3 separate regions of the Homo sapiens genome follow, and regions 1 and 3 are each linked to region 2. The links come from fine-mapping of genetic effects on gene expression. A gene starts in region 2. Each other region holds a variant in brackets. All regions are shown on one strand. Distances are between the middles of the regions. Region 1 overlaps R3HDM2 (R3H domain containing 2). Region 2 holds the start of MARS1 (methionyl-tRNA synthetase 1). Region 3 overlaps INHBC (inhibin subunit beta C).

Region 1 (10,263 bases), 150 kb after region 2:
CTGTTAATTTTACCTAATTACGTTTTCTAAATAAGGAAAGATAAAGAACTCATGAGCAGGTTTCTGGAACCAGGATCCATGAATAATTTTGGTTGAGTTTTGGATTTGGAATTTTTCTGCCTTATTTGCACAGACAGTTTGTACACTGTTTCTCAGACCTAAAAAATAGGTAGTTATGTAAAATTCCTTGACATTGTAGTTTAGAACAAAATTCTAATTTTGATGTATGTAGCTAAAGCGAAGCTTTAGGAAGAAATTGTTATATATACTCTTAGGTGTGAGCATAACAGCCCAACCCATTTTTTTTTTTTTTGGATTGAGTATCTGGGCTTCCAGTCGCTTTTCATGCAATTCCATTTTAATACCGCTGATTTCTAGAGGGCTGCAGAGGTCAGTTTGAAAAACTCAGTAAACTAGAGCCTAGGAAAATTAAGGGTTTACCTATCTGTCAATGTGTGTTTAGGTAACATATGTGGAAAAGTACCTTTAAAAATATGCTGGTTTATTTTCTGTCTTTATTTTCTCTTCTGTTCTGTGCTTTCATTTACTCTGAATTCTTTGTGTGAAGTGAAAAGAGTAATAATGTCTGCTTCTCAGCTTACATTAGGTATTCTTATTTTTCTATGATAGTTCAATTATATTAATATTTATTACAGCCATAAATGTTTCAGACCAACACAATCTATTTTTGGGGGGTGGGGTGTGGTAGGAGGAGAAAAAGGAAGATAATCCTAGGGCAAATGGAGAGAATTCTAGAAGAATAACCTATTTAGATGTTTGCCAGAGACAGGAGCTATAAGGGTTAAGGGAAATTCCACCACATCCTTGCATCTTGATATTGCAGCAAATTTGTGGATAATTTCTTGCTAGCTTTTCAGGAAACCCCTGTGGTGGACAACCCTCATTAATCGTTGCTGGGAGACTGCTCTGACGTCACTGGGAGCAGTTCCCTGTCTGCAACTAGGACAGGAATAGCCTTTGAGGGGGAAGAAAACTGCTGTGAAATTAAAAGATGACGGTTTTGTTTACTTGGTTTTCCTTTCATTTGAGGGTAGATAAGATAGACCTAAAGTCTTTCTTAAATGTTTGTCATTACCAAGGGAAAAATTGCCAAAAGTTCTTTTTATTTCAACTGGGAGTGCCTTCTTTTGAAATCTTTTATTTTCTAACCATCAAGGTTTTGGAAGAGGTCAAGGAAAAAGAAAAGCTATTGAAAGATGTTAGAGAAGTAAGATTTCTGTTTCTTTTTATCCCCTTTTCTCCCTACTTTTTTTGTTTTTTGTTTTTGGAAGAAGGAAAGATCAAGAACAACTTTTATAAATGGTTGTTTTTAGCATCACCCCGTTTGGGATAATTAAAAATGTGATATATATGTTGGAAGGACACTACTGTGCCTAAAAGTTACTATACCTACTTAATTCTCTTCTCTCTGATATCTTCCTCTCCTAGCCCACTCCCTTAACAGCTCTCACTGTTAACAGCTTCTCCTTCTCTCTCTCTCTTTTTTTTTTTTTTAGATGGAGTCTTTCTCTGTCACCCAGGCTGGACTGCAGTGGCATGATCTTGGCTCACTGCAACTTCCACCTCCCGGGTTCAAGCAGTTCTCCTGCCTCAGCCTCCCAAGTAGCTGGCATTACAGGTGCATGCCACCACATCCAGCTAATTTTTGTATTTTTAGTACAGATGGGGTTTCACCATGTTGGCCAGGTTGGTCTTGAACTTCTGACCTCGTGATCCACCCACCGGCCTCCCAAAGTGCTGGAATTACAGTCATGAGCCACCACATCTGCCAAGAGCTTCTCTTTAGAAAAAACTTACTGGTTGAATGCTTGCCCCCTGGAATTCAAATCCCAGCTTTGCCAATTGCTGCTCTGTGACCTTGGCCAAATTATTTAACGTCTCCATTTGTAAAATGGGTCAGACGTAGTGGCTTACACCTGTAATCCCAGCACCTTGGGAGGCTGAGGCGGATGGATCACTTGAGGTCAGGAGTTTGAGACCAGCCTGGCCAACATGGTGAAACCCAGTCTCTACTAAAACTACAAAAAAATTTAGCCGGGTATGGTGGCGAACACCTGTAATCCCAGCTACTGGGCAGAGGTTGCAGTGAACCGAGATCACACCTCTGCACTCCAGCCTGGGCAACGGAGCAAGACTCTGCCTTTTAAAAAGACACACACATGCACACACATTTGTAAAACGAAGACAATAATTAGTACCCACTTCCTAGGGTTGTTTTGAGGATTAAAAGAGTTAATATATACATAATAAATCTTTTAAGACAGTTCCTGGTCATTTAAAGACTTAGCATTAGCCATTATTATTAATATTTAGAAATAGAGTCCAGCCCAGGTGGCAGAATGAGACCCTATCTCTCTCTCTCTCTCTCCCTTTGAAAAAAAAAAAATGGCAGGGGGATGTACTATTTGTGTCTTCAGATCACATGTAATTTTTGAGGAAGCCATAAGAGATTTTCAAGCCATGTACGAGATTGAGTTTTTAAAATGAACATCAGGACCAGGCATTGTGGCTCACACTTGTAAGCCCAGCATGTTACTTTGGGAGGCCAGGGTGGGTGGATCACTTGAGGTCTGGGGTTCGAGACCAGCCTGGGCTATATGGTGAAACCTCGTCTCTACCAAAAATGCAAATAAATTAGCTGGGCGTGGTGGCTCACGCCTGTAGTCCCAGTTACTCGGGAGGCTGAGGCAGGAGGATCACTTGAACATATCCAACCAATATGGATACAAATTCTGTACTAATATGGAAACAAAGTTTAGAAAGAGATATCTCAAAACATCATGTTGTTAATAGCAGTTATCTCTGAGTTGTTGATCATGGGTATTTTTGTTTGTTTGTTTTCTTCTCTATAATTGTGCGTGTTGTTTTTGTTTTTGTTTTTGTTTTTGAGATGGAGCTTTGCTCTTGTTGCCCAGACTGGAGTGCAATGGTGCGATCTTGGCTCACCGCAACCTCTGCCTCCCGGGTTCAAGCAATTCTCCTGCCTCAGCCTTCTGAGTAGCTGGGAGTACAGGCATGCGCCACCATGCCCGGATAATTTTGTATTTTTAGTAGAGACAGGGTTTCTCCATGTTGGTCAGGCTGGTCTTGAACTCCTGACCTCAGGTGATCCGCCCATCTCAGCCTCACAAAGAGCTGAGATTACAGGCGTGAGCCACTGCACCCGGCCATGCGTGTTTTTTCTAAGTATAAAGAAACCTGCAGTACTTTTCTAATCATAAAAATTAAAAAATATAAAAATTTCTAGTGTTCATATCTGACAGATGAAAATTTTTAGCATTTGTTAAATTCAAATAATTGTGATGACCTGTATAACCTGGACATAGTGTTTGGAATACAGTAAATGATAGCTGCTGCTATTATTAGTTGAGAAAGATAGCTTCCTATGATTCGAGTCTGGGGCTTTCATATTGGGAGGTAACATCTCTGAGAAGATACCCTCTTCATGCACCTTCTTGTCCTTCTGAGATTAATAAATATGCTCTCTTTCTATATCTGCTAACCCAAGATCTTTACACACATACACAAGGTTATAGAACTAGAGTGCAATGTTTCGGGTTTTTTTGTTTGTTTTTTGTTTTTGCTGATGGTATAGAGGAAATTTAACGTGCAGATAGGCCTACTAGTGACTTTCTTTGCAGTGACTTAAAAAAATGCTTTAATACAATTTATGACTCCCACTGAAAGTTGCTTCTACCCCATTTTCTGAGTTGTTGCCTTAAGAATTCTTGGGAAATTTGGGCTGGGCACGGTGGCTCATACCTGCAATCCCAGCACTTTGGGAGGCCAAGATAGGCAGATCCCTTGAGCCCGAGTTCGAAACCAGCCTAGGCAAGATAGGGAGATCCAGACTCTACAAAAGAACAAAAAAAATTCAGCCAAGTGTATGGCCCTGTAGGCTCAGCTAATTGGAAGGCTGAGGCAGGAGGTCACTTGAGCCCATGAGATTGGGGCCACAGTGAGCTGAGATAGCACCACTATACTCCATCCAACCTGGGCAACAGAGCGAGACCCTGTCTCAAAACAACAACAACAACAACAACAACAACAAAAAGAGAGAAAGAGAATTCTTGGGAAATTTGAAATAGCATTCCAGAAAAGATTTTCTCAGGTTTAGGAATTTCTGAAATTCTGTCTATTGCTTCTCACGTTAGTCTGCTGTGTGGGTCCCTTGGAACTCAAGTGCTAACACATGAGATCTAGACTTTTTTACAAATAATTTTCAAAAATTTATTTGAAAAATTACTTTTCAACTTCAAGAATCTACTTATAAGTAAAGCATGGAAGACAATTTTGTAATGTAAACATTAGCATTGCCTAGCTCTAGAAACCTTTGTTCTATTCCATAGCCTCTTTTTTTTTTTTTTTAAACTTTTATTTTAGGTTTGGGGGTATATATGATGGTTTGTTACACAGGTAAACATGTATCACAGGGGTTTGTTATACATATTATTTTGCCACCAGTGTTAAGCCCAGTACCCAATAGTTATCTTTTCTGGTCCTCTCCCTCCTGTCACCCTCCCCGCTCATGTAGACCCCAGTGTGTATTGTTTTCTTCTTTGTGTCCACAAGTTCTTATCATTTAGCTCCCACTTATAAGTGATAACATGCGGTATTTGGTTTTCTGTT[C/G]CTGCCTTAGTTTGCTAAGGATAATAGCCTTGAGCTTCATCCCTGTTCCTGCAAAAGACATTATCTCATTCTTTTTTATGGCTGCATAGTATTCCATGGTGTATGTACCACATTTTCTTTATCCAGTCTGTCATTGATGGGCATTTAGGTTGATTAAACCTAAATCGACCACGTCTTTGCTATTCTGAATAGTGTTGCAGTGAACATTCATGTGAATGTGTCTTTATGTTGGTAGAATGATTTATATTCCTCTAGGTATAAACTCAGTAATGGGATTGCTGGGTTGAATGGTAGTTCTGCTTTTAGCTCTTTGAGGAACCATCATACTGCTTTCCATAATGATTGAACAATTTACACTCCCATCAATAGTGTATAAGTGTTTCCTTTTCACTGTAACCTCACCAGCATCTGTTATTTTTTGACTTTTTAATAATAGCCATTCTGACTGGTGTGAGGTATGAAATTAAAAAAAAAAAACCCACAATGAGATACCATTAGATACTATGGTATGGTATCTCATTGTGGGTGTTTTTGATTGGCATTTCTCTAATTATCAGTGAGATTGAGCTTTTTTTCCATATGCTTGTTGTCTGCATGTATGTCTTCTTTTGAGAAGTGTCTGTTCATATCCTTTTCCCACTTTTTAATGGGGTTGTTTGTTTTTCTCTTGTACATTTAAGTTCCTTATGGATGATGGAACTCATAGGCTCAAGCCATCCTCCTGCTTCAGCTTCCCAAATTGCTGGGTTTGCAACGGTGAGCCACCATGCCTGGCTAACACCTATAATCTCAACACTTTGGGAGGCCGACATGGGAAGATCTTGTGAGGCCAGGAGTTCAAGGCCAGCCTGGGCAACCTAATAAGAACCTGTCCCTACCAAAAAAAAAAAAAAAAAGTTAGCTGGGTATGGTGGCACCTGCCTGTAGTCCCAGCTATTTGGGAGGCTGAGGCAGGAGGATTGGTTGAGCCCAGGAGTTCAAAGTTGCAGCAAGCTGTGACTAGGCCACTGCACTCCAGCATGGGCAACATAGCAAGATGCTGTCACTTAAAAAAAAAAAAAAAAAAAAAGGTGGCCGGGCGTGATGGCTCACGCCTGTAATCCCAGCACTTTGGGAGGCTGAGGTCAGGAGTTTGAGGCCAGCCTGGCCAACATGGTGAAACCCCGTGTCTACTAAAAATACAAAAATTAGCCAGGTGTGGTGGCAGGCGTCTGTAGTCCCAGCTACTTGGGAGGCTAAGGCAGGAGAATCACTTGAACCCAGGAGGCAGAGGTTGCAGTGAGTTGAGATTATGCCATTGCACTCCAGCCTGGGTGACAGAGCAAGACTCTGTGTCAAAAAAATAAAAAGTATGGGAGATTGACACAGATCAGCAGTACTAAATTATATATATGAAAAAATATATGTTATATATTTTGTAGTGACCGAGTCTTGCTCTGTTGCCCAGGCTGGAGTGCAATGGCCCAATCATAGCTCACTATAGCCTCAACCTCCTGGGCTCAAGGGATCCTCCTGCTATAGCCTCTCAAGTAGCTGGGACTACACAGAGGTACCACTACACCCAGCTAACTTTTTTTTTTTTTTTTGGTAGAGGTGGGGTCTCACTATGTTGCCCAGGCTGCTCTCAAACTGCTAGCCTCAGGTGACACTCCTGCTTTGGCCTCTCAAAGTGCTGGGATTACAGACATGAGCCACGACACCTGGCCAGCAGTCCTAAACTAAAGTCTTTAGCTCTCCGTATATTGAGGCATGGGAAGTTTAAATATTGTGATTTAGCTGAACACTGATTCCTCACTGATTCCTCAATATATCCCTACACTGATTCCTCAATATATCCTGGTGTTGGTTTTCCAGCAGTTTAAAGATTCTTGAATTTCTTTACTGAAATTCAACAAGGAAAAATCTCCAGGGTTTTTGGGATCCCTTGTTATTTGCATAGATTGATTGTCTTTGCTATTCACTCCTTGCCCCATTCATTTTTAGTATAACAGAATGGCAGCATTTCTTATTTGTCTGTATAGACTATTCTCTGACAGTTTTTGCAGCAGTTTCTATGGAAAATGCTTTATTTCAAAAAAAAAAAGGCAAGGGAAATCTCATCTTGAGGCTCTTAGTGATAGAGCCTGTTGCCATGGAGTCTTGGATCAGATTGGCTGACCCAGGGGCCAATGAACAGATAGAACATAAACACATTATCATTTAACTTTGCAGAATTTATTATTCGATAATAGGTGACATTAACACCCTAACTGTATATAGAAACTGTGAAATAAAATGTTTCAAAAATGGTGTAAGGTGTTTTTTAAATTTGCTGTTAAATATAAATTTGATAATTGCATATTCTTAATGTGATTTGATTGGGGGAGGATATGGTGGGAAATACCTACCACCTATCTGTGAATTGAGCTGCTACTGCAGCCAGTTGGGCTTGTGCTAAGTCTAAGTCTAACTATGACCTTCTGGACTAGAGGAGGTTTTTTTTATATATGTGAAGCTGCCTTTCTTTCTTTTTCTTTTTTTTTTTTGAGACGGAGTCTCGCTCTGTCCCAGGCTGGAGTGCAGTGGCGCAGTCTCGGCTCGTTGCAGCCTCTGCCTCCTGGGTTCAAGCTCTTCTGCCTCAGCCTCCCAAGTAGTTGGGATTACAGGCACGTGCCACCACGCCCGGCTAATTTTTTGTATTTTTAGTAGAGATGGGGTTTCGCCACGTTAGCCAGGCTGGTCTCGAACTCCTAACCTCGTCATCCACCCGCCTCAGCCTCCAAAAGTGCTGGGATTACAGGCATGAGCCACCACATCCAGTGCCCTTCCTTTCTTCCTTCCTTCCTCCCTCCTTCCCTCTAGAAATATTTATTTATGTATTTATTTATTTATTTTGAGATGGAGTTTCGCTCTTGTCACCCAGGCTGCAGTGGCGCAATCTCAGCCCACTGCAACCTCTGCCTCCCAGATTCAAGCAATTCTCCTGCCTCAGCCTTCAAAGTAGCTGGGATTACAGGCGCCTGCCACCATGCCTGGCTAATTTTTTTGTATTTTTAGTAGAGACGGGGTTTCACCATGTTGGCCAGGCTGGTCTCAAACTCCTGACATTAGGTGATCCACCCACTTTGTCCTCCCAAAGTGTTGGGATTACAGGCATGAGCCACTGTGCCTGGCCTGAAGCTGCCTTTCTTATTTTGATAGCTTTTAAATCTGCATCGGAAATTATTAGCTTTTTTCTTCCATGTTTTTCTTTTTTTTCTACTCCAATCTGACATGGTAGATCCCTGTCAACATTATATAGTTGTCTCTCTCTTTGGTCTGGAGATAGAGGAATAGCTGGGGGTAGCTTCCATGTTTTCCATCTTTACTTCTCTAGCTTGTTTGTATATATTGACTTAGGTCTGGGATATTTCACTGAGCTCAGTGTTGGTTCCTTGTCATAGCAGATCATGGCATGTTCCTTTTCCTATTTTAATGCCCAAGAGAATAAGAATGATTCATTCATAGAAATTTCCCTCTCTAGATCTTGTAAATGAAAGAAGTCAAGAGTTTTGCGTTTCCCTTCTTACACTTTATGTCAAGGGATACTTGAGAAATTATGGTGGGTCTTATTCTTTGCTCTCCCAGTGTTCTCATACTTAGGTATTTACAGAGCTAAAGGATTGAAAGCGATATCCAAAGGCCCATGAGTTTATTCCTTTCTTTTGAGCTACTCAGCTCTCTGTAAGATATGAATCATTATATCATCACCTCCATCTCAGGAAAAACCAATTTTAGATTCTCTATTAAGCAAAGAGGGACAAAAAGTGTGTTCAGTATCTGACTGGATAACTCACCTTAGGGTAAGAATAAGGAATGTGGTTTGGTTCATTGGATAAGCACAAAGCAGGAGGAAAAAAGTATCACGTTAGATTCACAGGTTATAAGCTTGAATCTCAGTTCACACAGTTTTTTAGATCTTGCAGATCTTTTCTTGCTAAGCTTTATTTTGAATGAGAAACACTGATCTCTTAGGTGAAAATTTGGGAAAGCCATCCTGATCTGAATTTGGGAAAGCAGCAGACCGTTTTGAGAAAACAGTGTGATATCAAAGAAAGAACATGAATTTGGAGGCATTCTTGAGTTGAATTCTAGCTTTGCCACCTACTTTTTTTTTTTTTTTTTTTTTTTTTGAGACAGGGTCTCACTCCAGGCTGGAGTGCTGGAGTGATGCAGTCACAGCTCACTGTAGCCTTGACCTCCCAGGCTCAAGCGATCCTCTTACCTCAGCCTCCCAAGTAGCTGGGACTACAGGTGTGTGTCACCACACCTGGTTTATTTTTTTATTTTTATTTTTGTAGAGACAGGGTTCCACTATGTTGCTCAGGCTGGTCTCAAAATCCTAGGCTCAAGCAATCCTCCCACCTCAGCCTTCCAAAGTTCTGGGATTACAGGCATGGATCATCATACCTGGCCACTGTTTACATTCTATTAATATGGCAAATTACTTTTTTCTTTTCAAGACAGGGTCTTGCTCTGTGGTCCAGGCTGGAATCCAATGGTACAATCACAGCTCACCATAGCCTCCTGGGCTCAAATGATCCTGCTACCTCACCCTTTCAAGTATCTGGGACTACAGGTACATGCCACCATGCCTAGCTAATTAAAAAAAAAAATTTTTTTTTTTTTTTAGACAGAGTCTTGCTCTGTCACCCACACTGTAGTACAGTGGCGTGATCTTGGCTCACTGCAAGCTCCGCGTCCCGGGTTCATGTCATTCTCCTGCCTCAGCCTCCCAAGTAGCTGGTACTACAGGCGCCTGCCACCACGCCCGGCTAATTTTTTGTATTTTTAGCGGAGACGGGGTTTCACCGTGTTAGCCAGGATGGTCTTGATCTCCTGACCTCATGACCCACCCACCTCGGCCTCCCAAAGTGCTGGGATTACAGGCGTGAGCCATAAAAAAATTTTACAGAGACAGAGTTTCCCTATATTGCCCAGCCTGCAAATTACTTTAATTCACTTATTTAAAATATACTTATTATATGCCAGGCACTATTCTAGACCCTGTTTATAAGCAGCGAGCAAAGCAAAATCAAAATCCCTGCCCTCTTTGAGTGTACCTTGGGGACAGAGAGATAATAAACAAGATAAATAGTAAAATAAATTGATAGTTTGACAATGATAAACGACGAGAAAAATAAAGTCAAGGAAATGGTATAGGAGGTATTTGGGGTTTTGTAAGAGATAGGGTCAAAGAACAAACACTGGTGGTCAGGTCATTTAAGGTCTTGTAGATCATTTTAGGGACATCTGCTCTGAGTGAGATGGAGACCCATTGGGGGATTTTGAGCAAAGATGTAAAATGACCTAACAACGTTTTTACACAATCATTGTGGCTGCTGTTTACAAAATACTATGGTAGGGGTGAAAGTGGAAGTAAAGAGACCAATTAGAGGGATGTTGCAGTCATTCCGCCAAGAGAGGATGGTGGAATGACAAGGCAAGAAAAAGAAAGAAAAGGCATCAAAATTAGAAGGGAAAAAGTAAAATTATCTCTATTTGCAGACGATGGGATCTTAGATATAGAAAACCCTAAAGATTCCGGCCGGGCACGGTGGCTCACGCCTGTAATCCCAGCACTTTGGGAGGCCG
Region 2 (10,032 bases):
TTGCCCAGTCAAGCTGTACCTTGAAGGGAGTTCTCAGTATTCTACTGCCCATTCTGTAACCCCTACACCAAGCTCCTAGGGTTGGAGTGATATGCACAGTTCTCACCAGGGAGGTAGGCGGGATCTTGCAGTAATGGGTATAGGGCTCCCCACAAAACAATGTCGGCTAGAGATTCTGTCTCCTTTGTTGGGGATAGAAAAGGAAAATGTACACAAATGAGACACTCAGTTTCTTCCCAATGGTAATATCTAACATTTACTGAGCACTTTATATGTCAAGCACTGTATTAAGCACTTTATATGATCTCACTTAATCCTCACAATAACTCACTGAGATAGGTACTAATATTATCCCATTTCACAACTGAAAAAAATTGAGGATTAGAGAGATTAAGTGATTTGCCAAGATTACACTACTAGTAAGTGGCAGTGTTGGGTTCGAACACTCTGAATACAGTCTTCCCTCTTAATCCTTACACCATAAGCCTTCCCCAGTCCTCATCTCAAGACCCAACTCACCCCAGCCAGGAAAGGACAGTTCTGACGACTCAAGCTGTGGTCAATGTGAGTCAGGGCTCTCCGCACTGAACCAAGAACATCTTCCCCCTTCTTGCCTTGGACCACTAAATAGTACAGGGCAGCAGACAAAGCTGGCTAAAATGCAGGGGACATGAGTCAGGATGGCCACGCAGAACAAGGGCCTGCCTGACATCCCCCATACCTTAGTCCTACCTGCAGCTCTGTCGCTTCCCATTCCAGCCACTGGTTAGTGAGGTCATCTTGCTCCCAGCCAGATAACAAAAAAAAATATCTGCCCAGAGAGAGAGCAACAGATGATGGACTTAGAGGGGCCCATTTAGCCCATTTCTCATCACACAGGGAAACAATGGCTGCAAATAAAGCCACACAAATGACAGTGAGGCCTGATTTGATTCAGCCACCTCCCTACACCAAGGACCAATACTGACCGGCAGATTGCACTAGTGGAGAAGAGGTAGTTGCCGCTATCCAGCTGCAAGACAGGGACCTTAGGCCGGGTCAGGAACGGGACCACACAATCTGATGCAAGAATGGAAAATGGGTTAAAAAAAAAAAAGGAAAAGAAAAGAAATACTTTGTCAACTTAGGATAACCTTGCATTGTTCAGTGAGTAAAAAAAGAAAGATGGGCAGTCTCAACCCAGAAGTTCCAGGATAGGACCACTGAAAGGGGGTGGTCCGGAATGGGCTGGAGAGGCCAGCAGGTGTTCAGCTGAAACTGCCAGCTGGAAGCAACAGATGGGGACTGCAGAGGAGGTGGTGGTATTGGGATAGTGCTGCAGCCAAGAACTTAACGACTGAAAGTAACTGGGATATCTTCATAATTATCTGAAGGTCACAGTGGGAGAACAAAATTAAAAGAACTGAGAAGACTTACAAGAGAACCTCCTAAGAGTCACCCAAACAATCGGCTGAGAATGAGAAGAGGTAAACAGAAAGGAACGTGTGTGTGTGTTAGGAGGGGAGAGAGGGATTTCCTAAGAACACAAAAGGGTGCCTGGGGGCTGTCATGCTAGTAACTAAAGAGCAGAGGGGGATGCCTGATAGGTGTAGGAGAAGGTTGGGAAGGGAAGAGCAGTTTACTGGGGTGAGGCGGGGACCGGGAAGACGGAAGAGGGGAGGAGAGAGATAAGGGAAGGGTATTATATTGAGGGTAATTAAAGGAAGTGAAAGATGTGACTGGGAGGGAAGAAGGCGTGGAGTGATCAAGGATAATAGGAGAAGTGGTCGATTGGGGTGTGTGGCGAGGGCTAGGGGTTTGGCAAAGACAGCTGCAGAGAATCTGGCGTGTTTCGGTCCCGCCCCCCCATCCACCGCCCACCAGCACCAGCACGAGTACCTTCCGGGCCTACAGTGCTGATGAGCACCTCTGCTCTGCCCCGGGCTCTCCCGGCGGCGGCCAGCACCGGCAAGCAACCCGGGACGCCATCACTCACGAACAGTCTCATTTCGCCGTGAATCCCTCGCTGATGCAACCGGAACCGGCCTCCCGCTTCTGAGTTCAGCGGCCTCCGCGAGGCACGCCGGGAAATGGAGTTCCGTATTAGGCCACTGCCCTGGCACCGCTACCGGAAAGTAGACTATTTCTCCCATCATGCAACGCTAAGACACAGGAAAAGACTATCATCGAGATGAAGAGGCCGCAGATGCGGGCTAGACTGCACTTTTTTTTTTTTTTTTTTTTTTTTGTGAGAGGGCGTCTCCCTCTGTCACCTGGGCTGAAGTGCAGTGGCACGGTCTTGGCTCGCTGCAACCTCTGCCTCCAGGGTTCAAGTGATTCTCCGGCCTCAGCCTCCCATGCAGCTGGGACTACAGGCACGTGCCACCACGCTCGGCTAATTTTTGTATTTTTAGTAGAGGCGGGCTTTGACCATTTTGGCTAGGCTGGTCTCGAAGTCCTCACCTCAGATGATCCGCCCGCCTCGGCCTGCCAAAGTGCTAGGATTACAGGCGTGAGCCACTGCGCCCGGCCTAGAGCAGCACTTTTTTTCTGGAGATCCAGAAGAGACGTTTAGGTTTTAGGGCAAGTCGCACTTTTATCCTCTTACGCTGCTGGAGGGCGGTGACTGAAGCCGCGGCTGCTTCTCTTGTTGTGGAGAATGAAATGGCCATGTCATAACAGCAGCTACTCGCAGTGGCTCTCGATGCAAGCTCTTAACGGTCAGAGTTTTAGAGTTCGGAGTTACCATGTGCGGAATTAGTGACAAAGTGGAAGTTAGTGTACATATCCATCCTATCAACAACAACAACAAAAATGTACATAGGCCGGGCGCGGTGGCTTATGCATGTAATCCAGCACTTTGGGGAGTCGAGGCGGGCGGATCACCTGAGGTCAGCAGTTCGAGACCAGCCTGGCCAACATGCTGAAACCCCGTCTCTACTAAAAATACAAAATTAGCTGGGCATGGTGGCAGGCGCCTGTAATCCCAGCTACCCGGGAGACTGAGGCAAAAAAAATCGCCTGAACCCGGGAAGCGGAGGTTGCAGTGAGCCGAGACCGCGCCATTGCACTCCAGCCTGGGCAACAAGAGGAAACTCCGTCTCGAAAAAAAAGAATGTAGACAAGTAAAATATTAATACCAGTCTGAGTTCATATACAGCTCGACGTCTCATCAAAGGGGTAGAAGAGCATCTCTTTTTTTTTTTTTTCTTTGAGACGGAGTCTTGCTCTGCCCCCCAGTCTGGACTGCAGTGGCGCGATCTCGGCTCACTGCAACCTCCGTCCCCCGGGGTTCACGCCATTCTCCTGCCTCAGCCTCCCGAGTAGCTGGAACTACAGGTGCCCGCCACCACGCTCGGCTAATTTTTTGTATTTTTAGTAGAGACGGGGTTTCACCGTGTTAGCCAGGATGGTCTCGATCCCCCGACCTCGTGATCCGCCCGCCTCAGCCTCCCAAAGTGCTGGGATTACAGGCGTGCAGCCGCGCCCGGCCAAACATCTCTAGGGAAAAGATGAAATTGAGAAGTAAGGCCGGGCGCGGTGGCTCACGCCTGTAACCCCAGCACGTTGGGAGGCCGAGGCGAGCAGATGACTTGAGGTCAGGAGTTTGGGACCAGCCTGGCCAACGTGGTGAAACCCCTTCTTTAGTGAAAATACAAAAATTAGCTGGGTGTGGTGGTGCACGCCTGTCATCCCAGCTACTCAGGAGGCTGAGCCAGGAGAATCACTTGAACCCAGGAGGCAGAGGTTGCAGTGAGCCGAGATCGTGCCTCTACACTCCAGCCTGCACAATAGAGCAAGACTTCGTCTCAAAAAAAAAAAAATTGAGATTCAAGATGGCTAAGAGTTTGGCAATAAGTATATATTATGCAAGGAAGCACATACCTGTTATTGAGAAAGGGACGCTTCTTATTCATCTTTATATTATTTTAAGAATAATTAATATCTAATAGTACTTATGAGCTAGGCACTGTTTTAAGCACTTTATATTTGATCTCAGAAAATTCTATGGAGGTTCTGGGCCTTTTGAAGCTAGGCCATAAGAAGTTTTGCAGCTTCAGTTGCAGGCTATCTAGCACACTGGTAGCTTTGAGCTGCCATGTAAGAAATCCTACCACTTTGAGCTGCCATGCTAGAGAGGTCTCATGTAGATATTCTGTCTGACAACTCCAGCTAATCCCAGCATTCCAGTCATCCTTACCAAGGTGCCAGACTTGTGAGTGAAGCCTTCCAGACCAGCCCATCTGCCCACTGAAAACTCTTAAGTAACCCTTGGTAGGGTCTCAAGGCCACATGAGATAGAAGAATCACCCACCTAAGGCCTACCCAAATTTCTGCTCCATACCTATACAATTGTTAAACTATAATAAAATGGCTGTTGTTACATTAACAACAACAAAACAAACAAACAAAAAACTAGGCCAGGCCCAGTAACTTATGCCTGTAATCCCTGTGCTTTGGGCAGCTGGATCACTTGAGCCCAGGAATTCAAGACTGCCTGGCCAACATAAAAAAAATAGTTTTTTTGTTTTTTTTTTTTTTCAGATGGAGTCTTACTCTTATTGCCCAGGCTGGAGTGCAATGGTGTGGTCTTGGCTCACTGCAACCTCCGCCTCCTGGGTTCAAGCGATTCTCCTGCCTCAGCCTCCCTAGTAGCCGGGATTACAGACACCTGCCACCATGCCCGGCTAATTTTTGTATTTTTAGTAAAGACGGGGTTTCATCATGTTGGCCAGGCTGGTCTCAAACTCCTGAACTCAGGTGATACACCTGCCTTGGCCTCCCAAAGCGCTGGGATTACAGGCATGAGCCACTGCTCCTGGCCAAAAATAGTTTTTAAAACTAGCCAAGAGGCTGGGCGTGGTGGTTCATGCCTGTAATCCTAGCACTTTGGGAGGCCGAGGTGGACAAATCACCTGAGGTCAGGAGTTCGAAACCAACCTGGCCAACATGATGAAACCCAGTCTCTACTAAAAATACAAAAAATTGGCGGGGTGTGGTGGTGCATGCCTGTAATCCCAGCTACTTAGGATGCTGAGGCAGGAGAATCACTTGAACCCGGGAGGCAGAGGTTGCAGTGAGCTGAGATCGTGCCATTGCACTCCAGCCTGGACGACAGAGCCAGACTCTGTCTCAAAAAAAATAAATAAATACGCTGGGCGCAGTGGCTCACACCTATAATCCTAGCACTTTGGGAGGCCGAGGCAGGCGGATCACCTGAGGTCAGGAGTTCGAGACCATCCTGGCCAACATAGTGAAACCCTGTCTCTACTAAAAAATACAAAAATTAGCTGGGCATGGTGGCGCATGCCTGTAATCCCAGCTACTTGGGAGGCTGAGGCAGGAGAATTGCTTGAACTTGGGAGGCAGAGGTTGCAGTGAGCCGGGATCGCACCACTGTACTCCAGGCTGGCAACAGAACGAGACTCTGTCTAAAATAAATAAACAAACAAACTGAGGTAGGTCTCTCATCGCCATTTTACTAATGAGGGAACTGAGGCATAAAGTTATGACTTTATGCCAGAAATCACTGTAGAAGTGACTGTAGAAGGCATTGAAGGTACAGTTATCAACAAAATGGATGTGGGCTTCTGCTACCTTGGCAGCACTCACAGACTTCCTGAAAGTCAGAAAATCAAATAATCCTTAAAGTGTGATTAAAGTTATGATAGAGGAGGCAAAGCCTGCCATCGTACCTCCTAGTTAGGGCCCCTCTAATGGGTGAAAAGATGCTTTTTTTTTTTTTTGAGACAGAGTCTCACACTGTCGCCCAGGCTGGAGTGCAATGGCGCAATCTTGGCTCACTGCAACCTCCACCTCCCGGGTTCAAGCGATTCTCCTGCCTCAGCCTCCCAAGTAGCTGGGATTACAGGCGCCCACCACCATGCCCAGCTAATTTTTTGTATTTTTAGTAGAGACAGGGTTTCACCATGTTGGCCAGGCTGATCTCGAACTCCTGACCTTGTGATTCGCCTGCTTCGGCTTCCCAAAGCGCTGGGATTACAGGTGTGAGCCACCGCACCCGGCCTTATTTTTTTTTTTTTTTTTTTTTTTTTTTGAGACAGGGTCTTGCTCTGTCACCTAGGCTGGAGTGCAGTGGCATGATCTCAGCTCAGTGCAATCTCTGCCTCCCAGGTTCAAGTGATTCTTGTGCCTCAGGCTCCCAAGTAGCTGGGACTACAGTAGCTGGGCCAGCACACCCAGGTAAGTTTTGTATTTTTAGTAGGGATGGGGTTTTACCATGTTGCCCAGGCTGGTCTCAAACTCCTGACCTCAAGTGATCCACCCGCCTCAGCCTCCCAAGGTGTTGGGTTTACAGGTGTGAGCCATCACGCCTGGCTGAGATGCTTTCCTGTGCATGTAATCTTTCAGCTGAGATCTCAGTGATGCGTAAGAGTTATCTAGGTGAAGACTGGAGGGAGTGGAGAAGGGACGTGTTTCAGGCAAAGGAAACAACATATGCAAAGAATCTAAGATTTCAGTGCACTTTAAGAATGTGAGGAATTCGCATAAGACTGCAGTGTGGAGTTTGTGGTGGAGACTGTGAAAAGTGTAGAGAGGGAATCTGTAAATGACATTATAAAATGTGGAAAGTCTAAGTCAGGAGAGTAGCAGGGCATATGTGTTTTAGAAAGGTCACTCTGGCTGCTGTGTCAGGAATGGTTGGAAGGGGAGCAGAACTATATGCAATGAGAACTATATGCAATGAGACTAGTTAGGAAATTATATCATCCAGGCTAAAGGAGTGGTAGTTGTGGGGATAAAAAGTAGGTAGATTGGGAAAATATAAATTGAAGTGTTCAGTAATCAATTGAATCAATGTGGGTGGCGAGGAAACAAGATAAATTCAGGTTGGCTGCTAGGTTTCTGGCATGGGAAATAGGGCATACTTTCTATGTGCTACAACAGATGATAGTATTTCCTCTATCATAGTGATCATTATTACATCATATTTTCATTGTTATGAGTGGGCAGGGATCATATTTTTTTGTTTTGTTTTAAGACAGAGTCTCGCTCCGTCACCCAGGCTGGAGCGCAGTGGCATGATCTTAGCTCACTGCAACCTCCGTCTCCTGGGTTCAAGCAATTCTCCTACCCCAGCCTCCCAAGTAGCTGGGAGTACAGACACCTGCCGCCATGCCCAGCTGATTTTTGTATTTTTATTAGAGATGGGGGTTTCACCACATTGGCCAGGCTGGTCTTGAACTCCTGACCTCAGGTGATCTGCCTGCCTCAGCCTCCCAAAGTGCTGGGATTGAGCTGGATGTGAGCCACTGCACCCGGCCCCATATTTACCATCTTAATTGACAATGCCTAGCACATAGTTCCTGCCCGGCATATATGGTAGTAAACATTCAATAAATATTTATTAAATTATTTTATTTATTTATTTTGAGACAGGGTCTCACTCTGTCGCCTAGGCTGGAGTGCAGTAGCACTATCACGCATCACTGCAGCCTCAACTTCCCAGGTTCAATAGATACTCCCACCTCAGCCTCCCGAGCAGCTGGGACTACAAGGCACACACTGCCATACCTGGCTAACTAAAAAAAATTTTTGGCCAGGCGCGGTGGCTCACGCCTGTAATCCCAGGACTTTGGGAGGCCGAGGCGGGTGGATCACGAGGTCAGGAGACCGAGACCATCCTGGCTAACACAGTGAAACCCCGTCTGTATTAAAAATACAAAAAATTAGCTGGACATGGTGGCGGGCACCTGTAGTCCCAGCTGCTCAGGAGAATGAGGCAGGAGAATGGCATGAACCTGGGAGGCGGAGGTTGCAGTGAGCCGAGATCACGCCACTGCACTCCAGTCTGGGCGACAGAGCAAGACTCCGACTCAAAAAAAAAAAAAATTTTTTTTGTAGAGGCAGGATCTCACTATGTTGCACCTCAAGCTCCTAGGCTCAAGTGATATTCTGCCTTGGCCTCCCAAAGTGCTGGGATTATAGGTGTGAGCTACTGTACCAGGCCAATATTTATTGATTTCATATTAAACTAAATAGTGGTATTGGGAGAGAAACAGGTTTGTGATAAGTTCAGTTTGGTTCATACTGAGTTTGTCGTACCTGTGAAATACTCAAGTGGATTTTCTGGTGGACAGTGGATTAGATGGGAGCCCCAGAGAAAGATCTGGACTTGAGATACAGTCCTTAGCAGCACATGGAAATCATTTGAGCTGGGGAGAGAATAAGACCACCCAGGGAGGGTATGCAGAAAGCACAGGGCACAGGATCTCAGATAGGCTTCTGTGGTTTAAGGAACAGGCAGAGGAAGGTCATTTCTCATGCCACAGACAAGGAACTGCCAGAAAGGTAAGAGGGATACCAGCAGAGTGTTTGTAGGAGAGAAAGGTCAATTGTGTTGCCTGCTACTGAGATGTCAAGCAACATAAGGATTGCATAAGGACTGCAGGATGCTCAGGCAAGGTCGGGGGTGACTCTATTGAGGAGTGACTTTGAAAAGGTGGCGGAGTGAGGGGACAGGAAATGGAGATCCCCTCTACAGTGTAGGCAACTCAAGAAGTTCGACTGTAAAAAGAAAGAGAGAGGCTGGACTCGGTGGCTTACGCCTGTAATCCCAGCACTTTGGGAGGCTGAGGTGGGCAGATCACGAGGTCAGGAGTTCGAGACCAGCCTGGCCAACATAGTGAAACCCTGTCTGTACTAAAAATACAAAAAAAAATAGCGGGCATAGTGGCAGGCGCCTCTAATCCCAGCTACTTAGGAGGCTGAGGCAGGAGAATCACTTAAACCTGGAAAGCGGAGGTTGCAGTGAGCAGAGATTGTGCCACCGCACTCCAGCCCAGGCAACAGTGCAAGACTCTGTCTCAAAAAAAAAAGAGAAGAAGAAAGAGAGAGAGACATATATATGGTGGTACCTGGAAAGCCCAGTAAGGGGAGGTTTGTCTAAAGATGGGAGAGACTTGGATATGTTTAAAAGTGAATGCGACGAAGCTAACAAAAACAAGCTAAAGTATAGGAGAGAGAGTTTCAGAGAAGGCAAAAAAAGGGTGGATTCAAGCACTGAACACCAAATGAATAAATAAGTGAATAAATGGGTGAAATTAGTCACTATTTTGGAAGTGGGAAGGAAGAGTTGAGGGGTAGGATTCTCCATGTGTTGAAGTGAAGTAAACTAGGAAGATCACTGAGGCAGAAGCCCAGTACTAGCCACCCAGCCCTCAGGGGAAGAGAGCTGGCTCTCTGATATCACCAGTGGGGAGGGTCATTCGCTCCTTAACCCACCTCTCCAAACCCAAACAGAAAGCCTCACATTGTGCAGTGGAGAAGCTGAGAGAAGAGGAAAAGAGGAGTGGCCAGGTAAGGCAGAAGCAGAAGTGTGGGTTTTAAAGTGCTGGTAATCCAGGGAAGGTCACTTCCCACCTTCCACCAAGGAGAAGCTGGCATCAGTCCCCTATCTACCTGTCATAGCGTCTTGCATTACTTGTCCATTGTTCCTGATTCAATTGTAATTATTAAGTTTATTGTGTCATTAGTTAAGGTCTGTCTCTCCTTAAGCTCCAAAAGGGCTCATTCCCTTCTCTCATCTCCAGTGCCTGACACTGCTCCTTGCACGCAGGAGGCACTCAATCAATCCTTGATAAAAGCATAAATGAGGCCGGGCGCAGTGGCTCACACCTGTAATCCCAGCACTTTGGGAGGCTGAGGCGGGTGAATCACCTGAGGTCAGGAGTTCTAGACCAGCCTGGCCAACATGGTGAAACCCTGTCTCTACTAAAAATAAAAAAACTAGCCAGGTGTGGTGACAGGCACCTGTAATCCCAGCTACTCGGGGGACTGAGACAGGAGAATCACTTGAACCCGGGGGGCGGAAGTTGCAGTGACCCGAGATCTCGCCATCACACTCCAGCCTGGGGGACAAGAACGAGACTTCGTCTCAAAAAAAAAAAAGCATGAATGAACCCACACACTAAAGTAGCTCCTGCCTCAAGAGGCTTGTGTGTACAGGACAGTATCAAGGCTTCTCAGCTCCCAAAATCGTGTCCTGGATTGGGAGGGTGGTGATATTTCAACTCTGAATCCCTCTGTGTT
Region 3 (10,263 bases), 38 kb after region 2:
CTGCTGTGCCTGGCCTGGCCCTACCTCCCCACTGACACTTACGTCAGAGCTCAGCTATAAATACGCTCTTAGCATCTTAGTCACTTTTCCCAAGAAGTGCTCCTGGGTTATAAATACCCCAGCCATCTGCCTCACTGCCTGCCCTACCACCAACCTGGTTGGGGGCTGGGGGATAGCGACAGGCTTGGGGGTGGGTAAGGAAGTAGAAGAAGTGGGAGTGGTTATCTTGCTCAAATGAGAAAAGCCTGAAGGGGTCCAGAGGTAGGAGCTAGGAAGCTCTAGAAGAAAATGTTTAGAAGAAGACAGACCCACTCTCTCCCCTTATTACAAAAGACAGAGCCAAAAAAGAAAGGGAATAATGCTGATCCTGTTTTTATTTAAAAGTAGGCTATTTTGTTCATCATGGATTTTTTGCATTAATTTTGACTTTAAAATAATATTGCATTAAAGTCCTATCTTGATTAATAAATTGTTCACCACCCCCTTAAAATTTAGCCCCCCCAGGTGAATGACTCACTTTGCTTTACCCCAGTCCTAGCCCTGGAGACTAAGCTGTAATTGGGAAGGAGGTTAGATCTGGGGGTCGGGGATGTGTGGGGGAGACACCAGAAGGCCTCCTTAGATTCTCCTTAGATGAAGGTCTCCTCAAGTCAAAGGTGGGATAACTTCCATGGGTTGCTCAGGAAGCCCTCAAGCTCAGATTTACAGTCCCCCAGGCAGTCCTTTTCAGACTTTCTCCTCTAGGGTTCCTATTTCAGGGACCTCTTACCCTCATAGGAGGGGGTCATAAACTGAGCAAACACAGACATCACGTTTACCAAAGAACACATGGGTTTTGCGCAAACTCGGCCTTGGGCTGCAGACATTATCGACCTCATGGTTCAGGACTGTCCAGCCAAAGGGAGGAGATGTGGGGGAGGACGGGCAAAGGTCTAAAAAGGACCCAGTCTCAGAGCAAATGCCACCCTCTCCTCATCCAGGCCTTCCTCTTCTCCCTGTCCCACTCCAGCAGCCCTTGCCCATTCCAGCTTCCAGGCAGGACTCCTGGGTGGAGCACTGGGGGTGGGTGAAAGGAAGGCAAGTCAGAGGTCCTGGCAGCCAGCTCTGAGCATGCCTCTGCCTCCCACACTTGCGTGCCCACAGCTGGTCAGTTTACTGGATGACCAAGCATAGATCTGTCTCATCTTTTGGAGGGATTACAGAGGGAACAGGTAAAGCCTAGGTTTTTATTAGCCATGAGACCTCAAAGATGGTTCTGGAAGGATGGAGGGACGGGGTGCCTAAGAAAGAAGAGGCATAAAGTGTGAGATGGATACAATAGTTCAGTTCTGAGGAGACCATGTGAAGAGACAGCAGAGTAGGCAGACTACAGCATAAGCAGGCAGGCTCTGTGTCATCTGGGGTGCCAGTTAGGGCCCTTGTAGGAGATAGAGGACTTTTCAGCTGTCTGTTTTTGCTTCATCAAGAGAACTTAGTGAAGGAATTATTTACAGAGGTATAGGCAGAGTTAAGGGAACCAGTATGAGATGTTGAGGCCCCAGGGACTAGCAAGATAGAAAGCCTTTAGGACCCCCTAGTGTTGAAGCAGTTATATCAGAATGTAGGCAGAGCTGGGGCCATGGAAGGGGGTAGCCAGGTAGTGTAGGGACACAGAATAGCCACAGTTACACAGAACCATGACACCTAGACAGAGAGGGAACAGGGATAAGAAATGCCCTGACCTCAGCAGGAAGCCAGAGGGCAGGGGAGCTCAGGTGATAGAGCTCAGGCAAGTCAGCCCTTAAGGGCATAGAGAAAGGCAGAGAAGGACAAAAAATGGATGAAGGTATGCAAAGAGAGCTTTAGTAGTTCACCTGGACAACTAAGAAGGACAGGGGCTCACAACAAAGAGGGGGGTAGGTAAGCCTCTATTTTGGGCAGCAGTGATCTAAACTTTGGTGAATCCAAAGAAGGGCCTCTCTGGAGATCCACAAAAATTGGGGGAAGGGGTTGTGTCAACTCATCTTGGAGTGGGGACCATTGAGTAGAAAGGACAGGAAGGCATAGTGGGTTATGGGGTCTATTAAAGGTGAGCTAAGGGTGTCTTTGCCTGGGAACCAGATGGCATTGCTCATGGTTGGAGATGGGTCTGAGTCCCTGGAGTGGGGCTAGCGGGATGGACTAGCGGGATGGACTATGCCCTAGGAAAGAGGGTAGTGGTCAGGAAGATGGCACAGTGACTTGCTTTAGATGAAGGTTTCTTCAAGTCAAAGGTGGGGTAATTTCCATAAGATGCTCAGGAAGAGGGAGTCCACATTCTGGACAGAGAATGAGGTCATTCCCTCCTCTCAAGGAAGTGCACTTCTGTAGGGGCGTGTTTTCCCATGCAACCTTGGGCTGCCCATACCACACATAGACTAACTGCACCCACAGGCCTCTACTACCATGTCAGGTATGTCAGTCTTGACAATGTTGCTGTCCCTGTCATAATAGAGCAGAGACAGGGGGCGCCGGGCCGTGGGTACACAGCATGAGCCCCCTCCAGTGGTGCCTGCAGCTGTGTTGGCCTTGAGAAGATTGAGCACTGCAGTGTGAAAGGAGGCAGCAATACCAGGCATGCCTGCTATGTGTAGTGGGCACTGCCCTATGCAGAAGTTCATGGCGTAGCCCTCAGGCTGGATGATCCAGTCGTGCCAGCCAATCTCACGGAAGTCCACAAAAAACTCTTGTCGACAGCACATCCTGGACCCTCCTTGGCAGTCGATGCCTCGTCGGTGAATCTGGTGTTTGCCCCCAACTCTCACCCGGGCTGCCACAAAAGGCCTATGGGCAGCTCCACCCAGGATGACTGAGCTCTGGGCTACCTGGCCTTCAAGTACCAGCTCCAGGGTCAGGTGCCCCTGGCTGCAGGCAGCTTGAGCTTCAGGCCCTAGGGGGAGTTGATGCCAGCCACTGGCATCCACCTCCAGCAGGTACTGAGTAGCCAAGGTGAGGTTGGTATTATGTGGACCCAGCACAAGGACTCTCACTTTCAAGGTCCAAGTGGTATTGGAAGGGAGCTGCACAAAGAACATGAGACTGGCCTGCTGGACCTCCCTGTCACCAGCAGTTCTATCAGAGGAGAAGTGAAAATCAAGACGAGTCTGGTTGATGGTGGAGAGGCCTGTGGACATAAGAAGCCCCAGTCATTGCGGCCTTCTGACTGTCAGTTCTACCAACTATTTCTCTGTACTCAGCATTCTTGAGTTGTCTATAGCACTTGGCATTTGCTACAGTTTAAACATGTCCTCCAAAGTTCATGTGCTGGAAATTGGACCTCCAATGCAGTGGTGTTGGGAAGTGGGGCCTAATGGGAGGTGTTTGGGTCATGGGAATACCACCTTCATGAATGGATTAATGCCCTTATCTTGGGAATGGGTACCTTATAAAAGGATAAGTTTAATTATCAGCCCCACCCTCTCTTTGCCCTTCTGCCATGGAATAACACAGCAAGAAGCAAGAAGGCCCTCGCCAGATGCCAGCCCCTTGATCTTGGACTTCCCAGCCACCAGAACCATGAGTTAATATATTTCTGCTCATTATAAATGACCTAGTCTGTGGTATTCTGTTACACCAGCACAAAACGGACTAAGACAGCACTGCTGACAATTCTTTCCTTCCTGAAAATCTTTTCTCTCTTGGCTTCCATGACACAACTCTGTTATAATTCTTCCTGGTTTTCTTTGCTGGCTTTTCTTTCTCTGACCATCCCTTTAATATCAGAGTTTTCCAAGGTCTGTCTTGGACTTTCATTTCCTTCTAGTCTACATTAAGGGAGCTCTTAATTAGACTCATGGTCAAGCAACATAATTTTTTTTTTTTTTTTTTTTTTTAGACGGAGTCTCATTCTGTCACCTAGGCTGGAGTGCAGTGGCGTGAGGTTGGCTCACTGCAACCTCTGCCTCCTGGGTTCAAGTGATTCTTCTGCCTCAGCCTCCTGAATAGCTGGGATTACAGGTGCCTGCCACCACTCCCAGTTAATTTTTGTATTTTTAGTAGAGATGGGGTTTCACCATGTTGGCCAGGCTGGTCTTGAACTCCTGACCTTGTGATCCACTCACCTCAGTCTCCCAAAGTGCTGGGATTACAGGCGTGAGCCACCACGCCCAGCCAAGCAACACAATTTTTATGTTGGTGATTCCCAAATCTGTATGCCCAGACCAGAGCATTTTGCATATTTGGACCGGACATATAGATTTGGAAATCACCAAGCTTCAGGCCTAGATTTCTAACTACTTACTTTTGTCACATGAATGTCCTGGCAGCACATTAAAATCAATTTGTCCCAGAGCTGGGTGGAGTAGTGCATGCCTGTAATCCCAGCTACTTGGGAGACTGAGGCAACATGCCCAAGACCAGCCCAGGCAACATGGCAAGACCCCATCTTATAAATACATATGTGTGTATGCATGTGTGTATATATATGTATATATGTATGCATACATATATACAAACACAAGCACACACACATATATTTTATATATATATATATATATATATATATATATTTTTTTTTTTTTTTTTTTTTTTTTTTTTTTGAGACGGAGTTTTGTTCCTGTTGCCCAGGCTGGAGTGCAATGGCGCAATCTCAGCTCACTGCAACCGCTGCCTCTCGGGTTCAAGCAATTCTCCTGCCTCAGCCTCCCAAGTAGCTGCACCCAGCTAATTTTGTATTTTTAGTAGAGACAGGGTTTCTCCATGTTGGTCAGGCTGGTCTTGAACTCCTCACCTCAAGTGATTCGCCCTGCTTAGCCTCCCAAAGCGCTGGGATTACAGGCGTAAGCCACCGCGCCTGGCCTATATATTTTTTTTAATCAATTTTTTCAACCTGAAAAATAATTACTTTCCTTCCTATATACCCCCTCTTCATTCTTGGTGGTGCCACTACCCTCATCACCTGTAAAAACTCTATGATCAGCTAGGCGTGGTGGCTCACGTCTGTAATCCCAGCACTTTGGGAGGCTGAGGCAGGTGGATCACCTTAGGTCAGGAGTTTGAGACAAGCCTGGCCAACATGGTGAAACCCCATCTCTACTAAAAATACAAAAATCAGCCAGGCGTGGCAGTGGGCGCCTGTAATCCCAGCTACTTGGGAGGCTGAGGCAGGAGAATCGCTTGAACTTGGGAGGCAGAGGTTGCAATGAGCCAAGACCACACCATTGCACTCCATCCTGAGAGACAGAGCGAGGCTCCGCCTCAAAAAAAGAAAAAAAAAACAAACTATGATTACTTTCTTCATTCCCCCTATACCTTGTCTCACCAGAATGGTTCTAATGTCTGTGCATTTCTTTGTATCCCTATTACTACTGCCCAATTTCCTCTTATCATCCCTCACCTTCCTTACTGAACATCTTAGTTGGGTTTCTATTCCCTCCACTCTACTGAAATTGCACACGTCAAGATCACCAACACCTTCCACAAAGCAAATCTAACCATTTGTATTCATCTTACTTGACCTTTAAGCAGTGTTTGACACAGTTAACCACTCCCTCCTTCTTCCATATTTTCTTCTCTTGGCTTTTATAACAGTGGCCACTCTATCTTTTTCTCCTCTATCGACAGCTCCTCTTTGTCGGCCCAACCTTTAAATGTTGGAAGTCAGGCCAGGCGTGGTGGCTCACACTTGTCCCAGAACTTTGGGAGACTGAGGTGGATGCATGGCTTGAGTCCAGGAGTTTGAGATCAGTGAGATCAGCCTGGACAACTTGGCAAAACCCTGTCTCTACAAAAATTACAAAATTACCCAGGCGTACTAGTGTACACCTGTAGTCCCAGCTACTACGGAGGGCTAAGGTGGAAGGATTGCTTGACCCTGGGAGATCAAGGCTATAGTGAGACATCAACGCACCACTGCACTCCAGGCTGGGCAACAAAATGAGACCCTGTCTCAAATAAATAAATAAATAAATAAATAAATAAATAAATAAATAAATAAATAAA[TAAAG/G]TCCTAAGCTCCCTTCTCTTCACTATCTATACCCTCTCCCAGAATGATCATCCATTCCATGGCTTTCAATTCCATCTATATGCTGATGACTTCCAAATATATATATCTGGTCCTGACCTCTCCCTGAGCCCCAGCCTTGTATGTCCAAGTGGCTATCTGATATTTGACTTGGACATCCAATGATATTTCAATCTCTTTTTTTAATTAAAAAAAAATTTTTAGGCCGGGTGTGGTGGCTCACGCCTGTAATCCCAGCACTTTGGGAGGCAGAGGCAGGTGGATCAGTTGAGGTCAGGAGTTCGAGACCAACCTGGCCAACATGGTGAAACCCTGTCTCTACTAAAATTACAAAAAATCAGCCAGGCATGTTGGCACATGCCTGTAATCCCAGCTACTCGGGAGGCTGAGGCAGGAGAATTGCTTGAACCCAGGAGACAGAGGTTGCAGTGAGCTGACATCGCGCCACTGCACTCCACCCTGGGCAACACAGCGAGACTCTGTCTCAAAAAAACGAACAAACAAACAAACAAAAAAACCACCAAAAATTAGCCAGGCATGCTGCGGGCACCTGTAATCCCAGCTACTTGGGAGGCTGAGGCAGGAGAATCACTTGAACCTGCGAGGCAGAGGTTGCAGTGAGCCGAGATCATGCCATTGCATTGCACTCTAGCCTGGATGACAGAGCGAGATTCTGTCTCCAAAAAAAAAAAAAAAAAAAAATTTACATGGAGATGGGCGGGGGGTCTCACTATGTTACCCAGACTGGTCTTGAACTCCTGGCCTTAAGTGATCCTCTCACCTTGGCCTCCCAAAGTGCTGAGATCACAGGCATAAGTCAATGTGCCCAGCCTCAATCCTGTACAAGGAAGTCTAAATGTATCCCCCCAGTCCAAACCTGTTCCTTCTCCAAACTTCTCCCCATAAACGCATTGCTTAAGGCAAAATCTTGATTGTGTTTATCCTCTACTTTGAAATTATCTGAAAGTTTTATCAACTCTACTTCTAATTCATAATATAATTTCACTTCTCCCCACTTCCTCTACTACTCATTAGTCCAACTCACAACCATCTTTTTCTTTAACTGTAGCTTTCGTTCACTCAAGTGATTCACTCTTGCTCTCCAAACCATTCTCCAAATATCAGCCAGTGATCTTTTTATAAATCTGATTAGTTTTATCTTCTCAGCTTAAAACACTTCAAAGTCTTCCCCTTGCTCTTTGGATAAAATCTAAACTCCTTGAAATAGGAAACTTGTTTGACACTTAACTACTACACCCTGCCTATACTGGCCTTTTTCTGTTCCTCAAATTCACCAAACATAAAGCTATCTCATAGCCTTTACACTTGCTAGTCTCTTTCCCTGGAATGTCTTTCCAAGATCTTTGAATGACTGAGTTCTTTTTGGCATTCGGCTCAGATGTCTCCTCCTCAGAGAGGCTTCAGGCTTCCTTCCTAATCTATCTAAAGCAGGCTTCAGCCAGGCGTGGTGGCACATGCCTGTAATCGCAGCACTATGGGAGGTCAAGGTGGCAGGATTGCTTGAGGCCAGGAGTTTGAGACCGACTGGGCAACATAGTGAGACCCTGTCTCTACAATAACTAAAAAATATATAAATAAATAAAAAATAGCTGGGCATGGAGGAACACATCTGTAATCCCAGCTACTCGGGAGAATCACTTGAGCCCAGGAGGTCAAAGCTGCAATGAGCCAAGATCATGCCACTGCACTCTAGCCTGGGCAACAGAGCAAGGCTGTCTCAAAAATGAAATAAAATAGAATAAAACGTAATAAAATAAAATAAAATAAAAATAGCCTTCAATTCTGCCTCCATCTCTCTAATACATCATCCTGCTTAACTGTTTGTATAGCCATTATCATGCTCTGTAATCAGTGTGGTTCTTTTTTTTTTTTTTTCTGAGACAGAGTCTTGCTCTGTCACCCAGGCTAGATTGCAGTGGTACGATCTTGGCTCACTGCAACCTCCACCTACCCGGTTCAAGCAATTCTCCTGCCTCAGCCTCCTGAGTAGCTGGGATTACAGGCATGCACCACCATGCCCTGCTAATTTTTGTATTTTTAGTAGAGACGGAGTTTTGCCATGTTGGCCAGGCCGCTCCGGAACTCCTGACCTTGTGATCCTCCTACCTCGGCCTCCCAAAGTGCTGGGATTACAGGCATGAGCCACCAAGTCCGGTCCAGTGTGGTTCTTCGTTCATTTGTTTACTACGTATTTCTCCTACCCCTCTTTCTTCCCTGCAGCTAGAATGTAAGCTCCATGAAAACAGCGGTTGTGCCTGTATGGCTCACCATTGTATCCCTAGTACTTGGTATTTAGTAAGCACTCAATAAACACTTGTTGAGACCAGGTGTGGTGGCTCACACCTGTAATCCCTGCACTTTGGGAGGCTGAGATGGGAGGATCACCTGAGGTCATGAGGTCATGAATTCGAGATCAGCCTGGCCAACAGGGTGAAACCCCATTTCTACTAAACATACAAAAATTAGCCGAGTGTGGTGGCATGCACCTGTAGTCCCAGCTACTCAGGAGGCTGAGGCAGGAGAATTGCTTGAACTCAGGAGGCAAAGGTTGCAGTGAGCAGAGATCACGCCACTGCACTCCAGCCTGGGTGACAGAGCCAGACTCTGTCTCAAAAACAAACAAACAAACAAACAAAATACTTGTTGAATGGTCTTTCATTTCTATAATTATTTTAACATCAGGATTCTTTTCCCAAAACATGGATGGATCATAAAATTCATGGTCTCAAAAACCTTATTAGTTAATAAAGTCCTAACTCTTTTAGGAAACAGTTAAATACCCATTGTAATTTGGCCTTAGCCATTTTTTTTTTTAAGTGAAAAATGTTTTATGAGGCCCGGCGCAGTGGCTCATGCCTGTAATCCCAGCACTTTGGGAGGCCAAGGTGGGTGGATCACCTGAGGTCAGGAGTTCGAGACAAGCCTGACCAACATGGAGAAACCCCATCTCTACTAAAAATACAAAATTAGCCGGGCGTGGTGGCGCATGCCTGTAATCCCAGCTACTCGGGAGGCTGAGGCAGGAGAATTGCTTGAACCTGGGAGTCGGAGGTTGCGGTGAGCTGAGATCATGCCATTGCACTCCAGCCTGGGCAACAAGAGTGAAACTCTGTCTTAAAAAAAGAAAAAAAAATTAGCTGGGCATGGTGGCACGCCCCTGTAGTCCCAGCTACTCAGGAGGCTGAGGCAGGAGAATCACTTGAACCCAGGAGGCAGAGGTTGCAGTGAGCCGAGGTCGCACCACTGCACTCCAGCATGGCAACAGAGCAAGACTCCGTCTCAAAAAAAAAAAAAAAAAAAAAAAGAGTGCTTTATTATGGGAATGGAACTGATACTCTCATGGGCTCAAAAAGGCGGGGTATGAAGTTCAACTAGGCTTCATGTAAATTGGAAAGTCAGGAATAAGGTTCTTTTTTTTTTTTTTTTGAGACGGAGTCTCACTCTTGTCGCCTGGGCTGGAGCGCAGTGGCGCAATCTCGGCTCACTGCAACCTCAGCCTCCTGGATTCAAGCAATTCTCCTGCCTCTGCCTCCCGAGTAGCTGGGATTAGAGGCACCTGCCACCATGCCCAGCTAATTTTTGTATTTTTAGTAGAGACAGGGTTTCCCCCATGTTGGCCAGGCTGGTCTTGAACTCCTGACCTTAGGTGACCCGCCCACCTCAACCTCCCAAAGTGCTGGGATTACAGGTGTGAGCCAACGTGCCCAACAGGAACAAGGCTGCTCTTGACAGCTCTCAGAGCCAATAAGATCTCTTTCATCTCTCTCTCTAGATAAGTCAGTTCCACTCTTCTCTCTCTGTGGATCTACTACTTCTGCCTCCTTGTTAGCTTCCTCAGGTCCCAAAATTGTGGCCCAGGTCCCAAGTCTATAGGACCTTTTGCTCAGCTCCTCCTAAGTGAGCAGATCTTCCAGTGTCCCAATTCCAAAATCCTAAAAGAGTCTGACTGGCCCAACTAATCTTTTCCTTGCTAGGTCACAAAGCACCCTATAGTTAGTACCTTTTAAGTCACTCCAGTTATGGCAGGCAAACACAAGACCAACAGGGGCTGTAGTAGACTATTACACTGTTGGCCCCAAAGGCCAACACCTCCCAGTATTCATGACTTTGTGCTGTCCCTTTCCATATTAATTCTGGGCTTAGCCATGTGACTTGATTTGGGCAGTGAGACATTAGCAAGCATGGTGTTTATTGAGTACTTACATATTGAGGCATTCCACTCTTGGAAGCCAGCCGCAGTGCTTTAAAGGAAGTTGAGCTAG

The links. PIP is the estimated chance that this variant, and not a neighbour inherited with it, causes the effect. A credible set is the group of variants that fine-mapping cannot tell apart.
Region 1: its variant is the best candidate, but not a certain one, in a credible set for the expression of MARS1 in whole blood (TOPMed, PIP 0.63).
Region 3: its variant is the best candidate, but not a certain one, in a credible set for the expression of MARS1 in whole blood (INTERVAL, PIP 0.82).

The regions. Positions count from the first base shown.
Region 1 is chr12:57,330,949-57,341,211 of GRCh38, reverse strand. The region is part of intron 2 of R3HDM2 (R3H domain containing 2); the gene reads left to right. Among named protein-coding and RNA genes, the nearest start is that of STAC3, 85 kb to the right of the region's middle. The variant C/G (reference allele first, on the strand shown) is at 4,651.
Region 2 is chr12:57,480,046-57,490,077 of GRCh38, reverse strand. MARS1 (methionyl-tRNA synthetase 1) reads right to left here and starts at 2,010. Exons shown (of 21, transcript NM_004990.4): 1 at 1,879-2,010; 2 at 969-1,059; 3 at 733-811; 4 at 520-654; 5 at 107-182. The coding sequence starts at 1,987. It also overlaps a transcript of ARHGAP9 not described here. RefSeq lists enhancers at 1,139-2,085, 1,883-2,272, 2,086-3,033, 9,799-9,888.
Region 3 is chr12:57,442,156-57,452,418 of GRCh38, reverse strand. It overlaps INHBC (inhibin subunit beta C), which reads right to left. Exons shown (of 2, transcript NM_005538.4): 2 at 357-3,142. The coding sequence ends at 2,397. Among named protein-coding and RNA genes, the nearest start is that of INHBE, 8.0 kb to the left of the region's middle. The variant TAAAG/G (reference allele first, on the strand shown) is at 5,959.